3 linked regions of the Homo sapiens genome follow. The protein of the gene in region 2 purifies or fractionates together with the protein of the main gene of each other region. This does not show direct contact. Each region holds a gene or a part of one and is shown on either strand. Other genes may lie near its edges.

Region 1 (3,653 bases), on a different chromosome or scaffold from region 2:
TTAGGTTACAGATTGTTGGCCAAAATACCATAGAACTGTTGTGTTCTACTGAATGCATCATGTCAGCAGGCATGTGATGCCTGTCTGTCTCATTATTGTGATGTTAACTTTGATCACTTGGTGAAGTGGTAGACACCACAGTGTTCTATCTGCCACTTTTCCCCAATTCAGTGGTGGTTCTTTTCCTCTGCATTGAAAGGAATCTTTTTATGTGTGCCCATTCAGAAGGGCACCACATAACAACAATGTAGTCATAATTTTTGGAAATAAAAAGGACTTCTGTAATTTTTAATACTAGACTTGAAGCCTTACTGTTAAGGTTGAGATTATTTCAAGTATGAAGCACTAAAATGACTTTTATAAATTATGTACACTTATATTTCATGGCATTAATGTGAGTAACTTTTTTTGAACATAATAATCAGACAGGTTGGTTACTTTTACATTGGGTGACTTATTTTATAATTTATAATTTTATGTTGATGTAACAGGGCCTGCACCCTAGAATAATAGCTGAAGGATTTGAAGCTGCAAAGATAAAAGCACTTGAAGTTTTGGAGGAAGTTAAAGTGACAAAGGAGATGAAAAGAAAAATCCTCTTAGATGTAGCTAGAACATCATTACAAACTAAAGTTCATGCTGAACTGGCTGATGTCTTAACAGAGGTATGTTATTAAACTTTTGCATTCAGAACAAATATAGCCTAATGCATGGTGATATTTTTCTTTTTCTGTAAGATAATCAAGTATTTCATGTGGTTTTTTGGGCATAAAATATGGAAGACAGACAATTATTGTATAGGCCTAACTGTAGATTAGATTTGACTGGTCAGAACAGTATTTGTAATTTTCAGAAGTATCATACTAGGCCTTTTTTTAAACGTGACTTGAAAGGTGGGAGAGGTTTGGCTGCCTGCAGATCATCTCCTGTGGAAGCTCTTGAATAGTATACTGGTCTTTTTAAATCTAGCAGTCCATATTTTATTATGTGAGGTGACACACAAGATAGTTGTTTTAGCAGTGTACCTTGTAGATAAGGTTACCAATATAATGAAATGTGATATGATATATTAATATATTAATATTCACATATTGGAAATGTATGTTTGTTTAGTTTATTTCTTTTATTAATTTATTTGAGACAGAGTCTTACTCTGTCACTCAGGCTGGAGTGCAGTGTCATGATCTCAGCTCACTGCAACCCCCGTCTCCCAGGTTCAAACGATTCTCCTACATCAGCCTCCCGAGTAGCTGGGATTACAGGCGCGTGCCACCACGCCTGGCTAATTTCTGTATTTTTAGTAGAGATGGGGTCTCACTATGTTACCAAAGCTTGTCTTGAACTCCTGACCTCAAATGATACACCCACCTCGGGCTTCCAAAGTGCTGGGATTACAGGCATGAAGTCACCACATCTGGCCAGTGTTTTGTTTATTTCTAAAGGTAGAATATATGTTATATAGGCTGGGCATGGTGGCTCATGCTTGTAATCCCAGCACTTTAGGAGGCCGAGGTGGGGAGACGACCTGAGGTCAGGAGTTTGAGACCAGCCTGGCCAACATGGTGAAATCCTGTCTGTACTCAAAATACAAAAATTAGCTGGGCATGTTAGCAGGCACCTGTAATCCCAGCTACTTGGGAGGCTAAGGCAGGAGAATCACTCTGGGAGGGAGGGGGAGGTTGCAGTGAGCTGACATCATGCCATTGCACTCTAGCCTGGGTGACAGAGTGAAACTTTGTCTCAAAAAAATATATATATATATATATATATATTTTATATAAAGACAAGATTGGCTGGATATTTTGGGAAGGCTTTTATCAGGTGGCAATGATTTGATATCATTATTGTTTTTCAGCTTTGTAATTTCTGAAACTTGAATATATTTGTTTACCAGGAAGAATGATAAATTCTTAGGAAACAAATTCACAAGACATTGACATACAAAGCAGAATACTACCTTAATAATTTACTTTGAGAACTACAAATGCCAAATGTACTGGAATACTTGAGTTGTTTCTGATCGATTCTCCTTACCGTTAAAAAAAAACAACTTGGGAAATCAGATTAAGATCAGACAATTTCTTGATGAGCAGAGTCAGAAGAAAGGCTCTGCTGTGTTTTCTGCTGTTAGAGTACTTGAATGGCCCCAAATCTTCATGCTGCTAGGGCACCCATTCTGTTTTAGAGTTACAGAAACAGTGATATTCTCACTATCCAATGGCCTTTGTCCTATTTCTTATTTGCCTCTAAAATAAAATATTATGTCACCTCAGGCAAAGTTTTCTAAGATACAGTTTTTTCTGCTTTATGTATATTTTAGGGTAGTTATAACTTAGCCCTTAATTTCTGCAGTTATTTATTATTTTTATATCATTTTCTGAGCTAAGCAATAAGACGTGTTGTGCTATGCTTCTTAAATTGTATATCCCTGGTCATATGTGACAGAATAAATGAGACGTAGCTTTCTGGAGTGTCAATTTTACTTTACAATTTTGGGGGAAAACATTATTTTTACATTGAGATAAACATATTATGGGATGACATGGAAACTTTTCACGATAAAACATGAGACTTTAACGTTTCCTGTTATTACAGCCAGCAAATTGGAGCTATTACCTTAGATTACCTTTCCTTCTTTTCCATTAAGGTGTCCTTTGGTGGAAAAGTTTGGATAGTCTTGGTATGATAGAAAGAGTAGTCGCTGGGCAGTTAGGGAGCCCTGAATTCTAGTCCCGGCCCTGTTACTAGCTGTTAGATCTTATTTAAAAACTGTGACTTCTTAAGGTCTTATCTCAGTTGCCTTATCTGTAAAATAAAAGGTTTGGACCTAATGATCTCTGAAGTTTCTTTAGACTCTAAAGTGTCTGTTGGCATTGGCTATTGTTAGCATCCATAGTAAAGTGGCACATATTGGTCTTGCCCTAGGTTTTGAATCCTGAAGGCTTTTATCTCCTTAGTCTGGTGATAGATTGTTTGGGCCCTTGGTTTATTTTAGTAGTCCAAATAACTTAACTGTTCTCATTCATTTCTCTTTCAGGTTGTGGTGGATTCTGTTTTGGCTGTTAGAAGACCAGGTTACCCTATTGATCTCTTCATGGTAGAAATAATGGAGATGAAGCATAAATTAGGAACAGATACAAAGTAAATTACATAAGCTTTGACAACATATGGGTTCTAGAATTTTTTAAAGATATTCTTTTATTAAATTCATTACTTACTTTTATTCAACATAAATATATTCATTCACCATATATTAAGTCACTGCTCTAGGTAATGGGAATGAGAGTAAACAGAACAGAATTTCTTTCCCCAAGAAGTTTATGTTTCTAATTGAAATAGAAAAAAAATCATGTGTGTGATTTTATAGTGGACAGGGAAGACTACTCTGATAAGAACCTGGAGAGCTAAGAGGTCTCTGAAGAAACAAGGGAGCTAGCCATGTGCACATCTGGAATAAGAGGGTTCTAAGCAGAAGGAATGACCTCTGAAAGGGTCCTGAGGCAGAAGTGTGACTAGGTTGTTACAGTGTGCCTGGAGCACAGGGAGAGGAGGTGAGGCAAAAGGGACCAGATTATGGAGTACCATGTTGATTTTGGATTTACTCTTTTAAAACTTTGTATTATAGAAAACTGTGAACATATATAGAGAGAACA
Region 2 (3,653 bases):
CCTCACGTGCAGGGGCCCATATCTCTGACCCCTCAGCCCCACCAGAAGCCTATGTATGGTGAGACTCAGCCCAAGCCCCCAGCCAGGCTGACCTGTTCACGATGGACGTGTGTCCTCGGTACACCTGCAGACACTGCCCGGTCAGCACGTCCCACCTCCTGATGGTGCAGTCGGCGCTGCATGTGAAGGCAGCCTCATCCTCCAGCTGGCAGAAGGTCACATAGCTTTCATGTCCTGCAGATGAGGGACAGGGGAGATGTGAGCGTACTGGGGATGCCAGCTCCTGCTTTTCTTCTGGGAACAATGTTTGAAAAGGGAAGAAAGCAGGATGTAGGGAGTGTTTGAGACAAGCTGGAGTCAATTAGCATTAGTTTTGTTTTGTTTTGTTTTTTTGAGACAGAGTCTCACTCTGTCACAAGGCTGGAGTACAGTGGCGCGATCTGGGCTCACTGCAACCTCTGCCTCCCGGGTTCAAGTGATTCTCCTGCCTCAGCCTCCTGAGTAGCTGAGATTACAGGCGCATACCACTATACCTGGCTAATTCTTTGTATTTTTAGTAGAGATGGGGTTTCGCCATGTTAGTCAGGCTGGTCTCGAACTCCTGACCTCAAGTGATCTGCCTGCCTTGGCCTCCCAAAGTGCTGGAATTACAGGCGTGAGCCACTGCGCCCAGCCCTCAACTCATCCTTCTTAAAGAATGACTTCAGTCTGAGTGATTCTCAGAAAGCACGGGGTACCAGTGAGGCACGACAGATAGTCAGGGAAGTAACCATGTCCTCAGGACGCAGCAACCATGGCGACTGCGCCGTCAACACAATAAGCCCCAGCATTCGCACTGCAGGCAAGCTCATTCAAGCAAAGCTATCTTCAGTAGGGACTTTCCCCTGTAGAGAGCACGTGCACTTTGATTTTTACCGGTCCTCACAGTGACCCTTTGCTCATTACAATAGTAAAAAACACACCCCTGGATGGAGATTTAAGATGCCAGTGAGACATGTGACGTATGAACAGGGATGCACAGCCACTGTGCATGAGCACCCAGAACATGCTTCCCAGCAACCCCCTTGCCCACCTGCTCATGAATAATCAGGTAAGACTCCTAAAAAGGGATCCTCCCTCCAGCCGGTCTTTGCTCTCTCATCCTCACAGGCAGCCTACCCTGACTCCCCTCTTGGGGCGTCCTGCCTATTCTGCACCTAACTTTCAGGGTATTCTTCCTCCTGTGCAATACATTGCTCTATGCTGCATCTCCTTTGCTGTGTGTCTCCTGTTTCAATTCTGTTAAACTAAGAAGACAAGAACTGAGGTTTCACAGCAGCCATCAACAGCAGGAGCAATCCAGGGGCACTCGCCTGCACCCTAAACCCTCTGTTTCCTCAGCTTCCACTCTTGCCTTCCTCCCTCCTCTCCTTCCCTCCTCATTTCTTTATCATCTCCTTTTAGTCTTTTTCAAACCTTTCAGCTTTTGCATTCCACATTTCCTCACCTGGGATGGGGACAATGCCTGCCTCACGGGATGTAGCGCAGACTGAGGACAGAGGCAGCCGCAGAGGGAATGGCACATGTTCGCTATTTTCCTTACACTGGGGAGAGATACTGTGGTAGGCAGAATGACGGCCCCAAGACAGCAGGTCCTAATCCCTGGAACCTGTCAATGTGACCTTACTTGGAAAGGGGTCTTTGTGGATGTGACGAGGTAAAGACTTTGACTGGGGAGATTATCCTAGATTATCCGGGGGGTCCTAAATACAACCGCAAGTGGCCAGGCGCGGTGGCTCACGCCTGTAATTCCAGCACTTTGGGAGGCCGAGGCGGGTGGATCACAAGGTCAGGAGTTCAAGATCAGCCTGGCTAAGATGGTGAAACCCCGTCTCTACTAAAAATACAAAAAATTAGCCGGGCGTGGTGGTGGGCGCCTGTAATCCCAGCTACTCGGGAGGCTGAGGCAGAGAACTGCTTGAACCCGGAAGGCGGAGGCTGCAGTGAGCTGAGGTTGCACCACTGCACTCCAGCCTGGGTGACAGAGCAAAACTCTGCCTCAAAAAAAAAAAAAAAAAAAAAAAATATATATATATATATATATATCTCCACAAATGTCCTTACAAGAGAGAGGCCAGGGAGATGTGATATACTCGGAAGAGGAGGCCGTGAAGGTGAAGGCAGAGATGGATGTGGCCACGAGCGCAGGAATGCCAGCAGCCACTAGGGCTGGAAGAGGCCAGGAACCGACCGTTCCCTGCAGGGTTTAGATGTGGCCCTGCTGACACCCTGCTTTCATCCCAGGGACGCTCATTTCAGCCCTCTGGGTTCCAGCACTGTGAAGAATCAACTTCACTTGTTTCCAGGCACCAAGCATCCTCCTTTGTCACAGCAGCCCCAGGACACTAACATAGACACAGAGACAATGAAACACAGCCTTGCCCTCCAAGGGAGCTCCAGGCCCAGAAGGGAAGACAGTCAAGGGCAGCATGTGGTCAGCAGGGCTCGGCACCCCACTGGCAGCGGCTGGCTGGGGCTCGGGAGAGAAGCCTGAGCACTGGAGACCAGGAAGAGGGTGACTCGGTGCCCGTAGGGAGAACAGCGGCTAGGAAAGCAGGCGTGCAGGGACTGGCTCCATGGGGCACCTCCAGGCCAGAGTCTGAGTGATCGGTAGAGATGACTGATGAGGCCGGGATGTGGCCAGAATGGAGGGCCAAGAGTGGAGGGCCATGCCAGGGTGTCTGGGGTCTCAGCACCTGAGCTACCCCACCAGCTGGTTGGGACTCTATCTCATGGGTGCAGTTAGATAGCTTGACTATCACCCTGGCTGCCAGATCAATGTTTATGCCTCAGGCATTGCTTAGCAGCCCTGGGGGCCCTCAGGGTCTCTGATCTTAGTAGGGCCTGCCCTTCAGGTAAAGATGGTGTGTATACAGTTGTCCCCCAATATATACAGTTGCCCCCAATACCCATCAGGGATTAGTTCCAGGATCCCCTGCAGATACCAAACTCCACAACGCTCAGGTCCCTGTGGTGTAGTATTTGCCCATAACCTATGCAATCCTCCTGCATACTTCAGTTCATCTCTAGGTTACTTATGACACCCACTGCGATGGCTACACATCGCTTCACTTGTGTGGATTCAGTGTAGGACTTGGTGAGCAGGGAAGCCAAATTTTGCTTTTTGGAGCCTTGTGGAATTTTTTTTCCTGGATGTTTTTCATCTGTGGTTAGACGAACCCACAGGTGCAGAACGTGTTGGGCAGGAAGGCCCACTGGATTTGAGGAACTCGGGGACCAGGAAGTCAAATCAAAAGACTGTTAGAACTAAGAGCCATTTTACAGATGAGACAATGGACAAATTCAAACATCCACACATTTGGGGGACATACTTATTACATTAAGAATTTTGATAGAATTTTAAAATTTCATTTAGACAGCTGGTATTGGGTAGACAGGGATTTAGAATTTCCTGGGTAGTTTCAAGCCAATTCACATCCACCCCTTCCCCCGACCCCCTGAGTTTAAGTTCAGTTACTCTTGGAAAAACGCAACTTCCTGAGTTCTAAGAAACATAATTTAACAAAAAAGTTTTCCAGCCTCCCTGGAGGGCATATACCAGGCCGCTAAGAAAACAATGTACGGATTAAGTCAACATTTGAAGAAACTGCAGA
Region 3 (3,653 bases), on a different chromosome or scaffold from region 2:
CCATAGAGTACACATTATACACTTGCCAGAATTTTTGAAAATGGTAGAGAAAACCTTGCTTATTGTTTGCATTTTTTAAAATGTATTTTGTAAATCTTCTCCCCAGCACCCAGGCTGAACTCTGTACCATTTGGAAGAATGGAAGCTGATGCATCTGTTGACATGTTTTCCAAAGTCCTGGAGCATCAGCTGCTTCAGACTACCAAACTGGTGGAAGAACATTTGGATTCTGAAATTCAAAAACTGGATCAGATGGATGAGGATGAATTGGAACGCCTTAAAGAAAAGAGACTCCAGGCACTAAGGAAAGCTCAACAGCAGAAACAAGTAACCTCTCTGCCCTGCTTTCTGAAATTGCTATAACAGTATGCGCCTAACAACTTATATATACATGTGCTGTAGTAGTTACATTTCGTTCTTTGTGTTTAGGGTTTTTAAAATTCAGAATACCTATTACTGTTAAAAATTTGCCCAGAAAAAAATATGTTTTAAAGACATTCAAAATTAGCCCAATCTCTATATTAATCCACAGTCGAGTAAAAGAAAGATCTGCCCAAGATCGTTTTTCTGAGCTTGGATTTGTTTGGTTGAATGGAGGGCTAGGGAGTCATTGGTTTCCATTTCAGGTAATATTAAAGCCGATTTAGCTATTTTCAAAGCAAACGAGATAAGACAGATGAGATAAGAGCAATTAAGTCAATTTATGTTGAAAAATGTATTTCAGGCATTTCCAATGAAATAATTATGTGGCATATTCAAAAGAATGCATGCTTTGTAACAAAGGTGGCCACAGCTCTATCGTTGTTGCCTCTTAGAATGTTTGTGTAGAATAAACGCAGAGTTGTAAACTCTGACTGAAACCAGTGGATTAAATTCTGTAAATTGAAATTTTTTTTTCTGCTTTTTGAGATGGAGTCTCGCTGTGACACCCTGGCTGGAGTACAGTGGTGTCATCTCAACTCACTGCAACCTCCGCTTCCCGGCTTCAAGCAATTATTCTGCCTCAGCCACCCGAGTAGCTGGGACTACAGGCGCACACCACCATGCCTGGCTAAGTTTTGTATTTTTAGTAGAGATGGGGTTTCGCCATGTTGGCTAGGCTGCCCTTGAACTTCTGACCTCAAGTGATCCGCCCACCTTAGCCTGCCAAAGTGATGGGATTACAAGCGTGAGCTACCGCACCTGGCCAAATTGAATTTTGATTAAAACATTTTTTCCACTGGGTTACATGGAAATACTTTATCACCAACTCTGGTTCCTTTTCAGTTGACTGTGACTTAAACATGAGGCTTAACTTTTCTGAAGAAATAGGGAGTTTTGACCGGGCATGGTGGTTCACATCTGTAATCCCAACACTTTGGGAGTCCAAGGTGAGCGGACAACCTGAGGTCGGGAGTTCAATACCAGCCTGGCCAACATGGTGAAACCCTGTCTCTACAAAAAATACAAAAATTAGCCAGGTGTGGTGGCGCACACCTGTAGTCCCAGCTACTCAGGAGGCTGAGGCAGGAGAATCTCTTGAACCCGGGAGGTGGAGGTTGCCGTGAGTCGAGATTGTGCTACTGCACTCCAGCCTGGATGATAGAGCAAGACCCAGTTCCCCCACAAAAAAAGAGAAGGAGTTTTGTTTGTATTGCTGTAGCATCACTTTGATATGTTTACACCCTCATGTTTAGAAGAGTTACTACAAAAGGAAATAATCTTTTATAAGTGAGTCCAAATTTTTATATTTTGAGTTTCTAAAATAGAGTACGTTATATGGCTTTTACCTGTACCCTACCGTATTTTAAAAAATAGGCTGCTTTTCTTTTTCTTTTCTTTCTTTTTTTTTTTTTTTTTGAGAGGGAGTCTCACTCTGTTGCCCATCCTGCCTTGACCTCTCAAGTAGCTGGGATTACAGGTGCCTGCCACCATGCCCAGCTGATTTTTGTACTTTAGTAGAGATGGGGTTTCATCATGTTGGTCAGGCTGGTCTCAAATTCCGACCTCAAATGATCCGCCTGCCTCAGCCTCCCAAAGTGCTGGGATTACAGGTGTGAGCCACCCCACACCAGGCCCAATTGGCTTCTTTTCATAGTATAGGGCTGATAATTAGTATGCAAAGGACGGATTATTGGAATTTAAGGTAATATATGTTTAGGTTCTGCCACAAACTCATATTTCATAGTCACATTTAAGTACTAATTGCTAATGTGCAACTAAAAATAATTATTTGTAACTAGGATATTTTTGTAGAGAGACTGAATTCACCTGATTTGCAGTGATGAACATACGTTAAATAATGTCTTAAAGGAACTTTTTGGCAGTTCAAAACAGTGGTCTGAATATAATTAAAACCAACTAAGGCAGACTGGCTATAAGCCTTTTTTATTATTAATGTATAAATCAATTTAAAATGAATTTGTCATCGAGTAATTCAGAGGGTCTTATTTTAGAACTTTCACTGCATTTTAGTAGGTCTTTTATTAAAATATTTTCTGGAAATAGTCAAGAAACCTAGTGATTTGTATAGATATTCTTTTTATAAGAGATTATACAGTAATTAGATTATGCAGTAATTTTGATTTTCTGATCCACGAGGGTATTGGGGAGATCATTGTATGCATTGACTTACAGTCGGCACTTAATAGACCTAGGTGAATCTATATTCTTCTGTCAGCCAAGCACCCTCCTACTGTTAACTAGAGCTGGCACACTTAGGTAGGGAGCAGAATAGAGGGATAAGGTAAGAAATAGGAGTTAAGCAGAGGCTTGGGTGACAGCCACTGACAGCCAGGTGCTGCCCAGCTGCCATGCCTCAGGTAGGCCCATCCTGCTTGATTCTGTTCTGCAGATACCTTAGGAGCACATGCTGTCCAAAAGGGGCTATGCTAAGAGCACAGGGGTGTAGTGAATGTGTCAGGAGAGGCCCTGAGCATTGGTAGAGGTTTGGAATGGGCACATCCTCCCTCAAAGGAGCCCAGGACAGGTTCGGGTCTTCAGCCTCTTGGTTAAATACCTGAGAATAAATAATGAAAAGAAATAGCAGCTTTTTTTTTTTTTTTTTTTTTTTTTTTTTGAGATAAGAGTCTTGCTCTGTTGCCCCGGCTGGAGTGCAGTGGCACAATCTCGGCTCACTGCAACCTCCACCTCCCAGGATCAAGCAATTCTTCTGCCTCAGCCTCCCAAGTAGCTGGGATTACAGACGCCTGCCACCATGCCCGGCTAATTTTTGTATTTTTAGTAGAGGTGGGGTTTCGCCATGTTGGCCAGGCTGGTCTTGAACTCCTGACCTCAGGTGATCCGCCCACCTCAGCCTCCCAAAGTGCTAGTATTACAGGCGTGAGCCACTGCGCCCGGCCTAGAAATAGCAGCTTTTTAAAAGACAAATACTTTTTTTTTTGAGACAGGGTCTTGCTCTGTCACCCAGGCTGGAGTGCAGTGGTGTGATCTTGGCTCACTGCAACCTCCGCCTTCGGAGTTCAAGCAATTATTGTGCCTCAGCCCCCGAGGAGCTGGGATTACAGGTGTGTGCCAACACACCTGGCTAATTTTCATATTTTTTGTAGAGACAGGGTTTCGCCGTGTTGCCCAGGCTGTTCTCAAACTCCTGTCCTCAAGTGATCCACCTGCCTCAGCCTCCCAAAGTGCTGAGATTACAGGTGTGAGCCACT

The links.
Region 1: the proteins of WDR86 (region 2) and CCT6B purify together in Homo sapiens (affinity purification with mass spectrometry; 2 studies listed by BioGRID and IntAct, with this or other methods). This does not show direct contact.
Region 3: the proteins of WDR86 (region 2) and TXNDC9 purify together in Homo sapiens (affinity purification with mass spectrometry; 2 studies listed by BioGRID and IntAct, with this or other methods). This does not show direct contact.

The regions. Positions count from the first base shown.
Region 1 is NC_000017.11:34,951,438-34,955,090, reverse strand, and holds part of CCT6B (T-complex protein 1 subunit zeta-2), read left to right. Parts: intron 1-491; coding exon 492-665; intron 666-3,037; coding exon 3,038-3,141; intron 3,142-3,653. UniProt on the Homo sapiens protein: Component of the chaperonin-containing T-complex (TRiC), a molecular chaperone complex that assists the folding of proteins upon ATP hydrolysis.
Region 2 is NC_000007.14:151,400,008-151,403,660, forward strand, and holds part of WDR86 (WD repeat-containing protein 86), read right to left. Parts: intron 235-3,653; coding exon 93-234; intron 1-92.
Region 3 is NC_000002.12:99,329,696-99,333,348, reverse strand, and holds part of TXNDC9 (thioredoxin domain-containing protein 9), read left to right. Parts: intron 1-106; 5' UTR 107-138; coding exon 139-327; intron 328-3,653. UniProt on the Homo sapiens protein: Significantly diminishes the chaperonin TCP1 complex ATPase activity, thus negatively impacts protein folding, including that of actin or tubulin.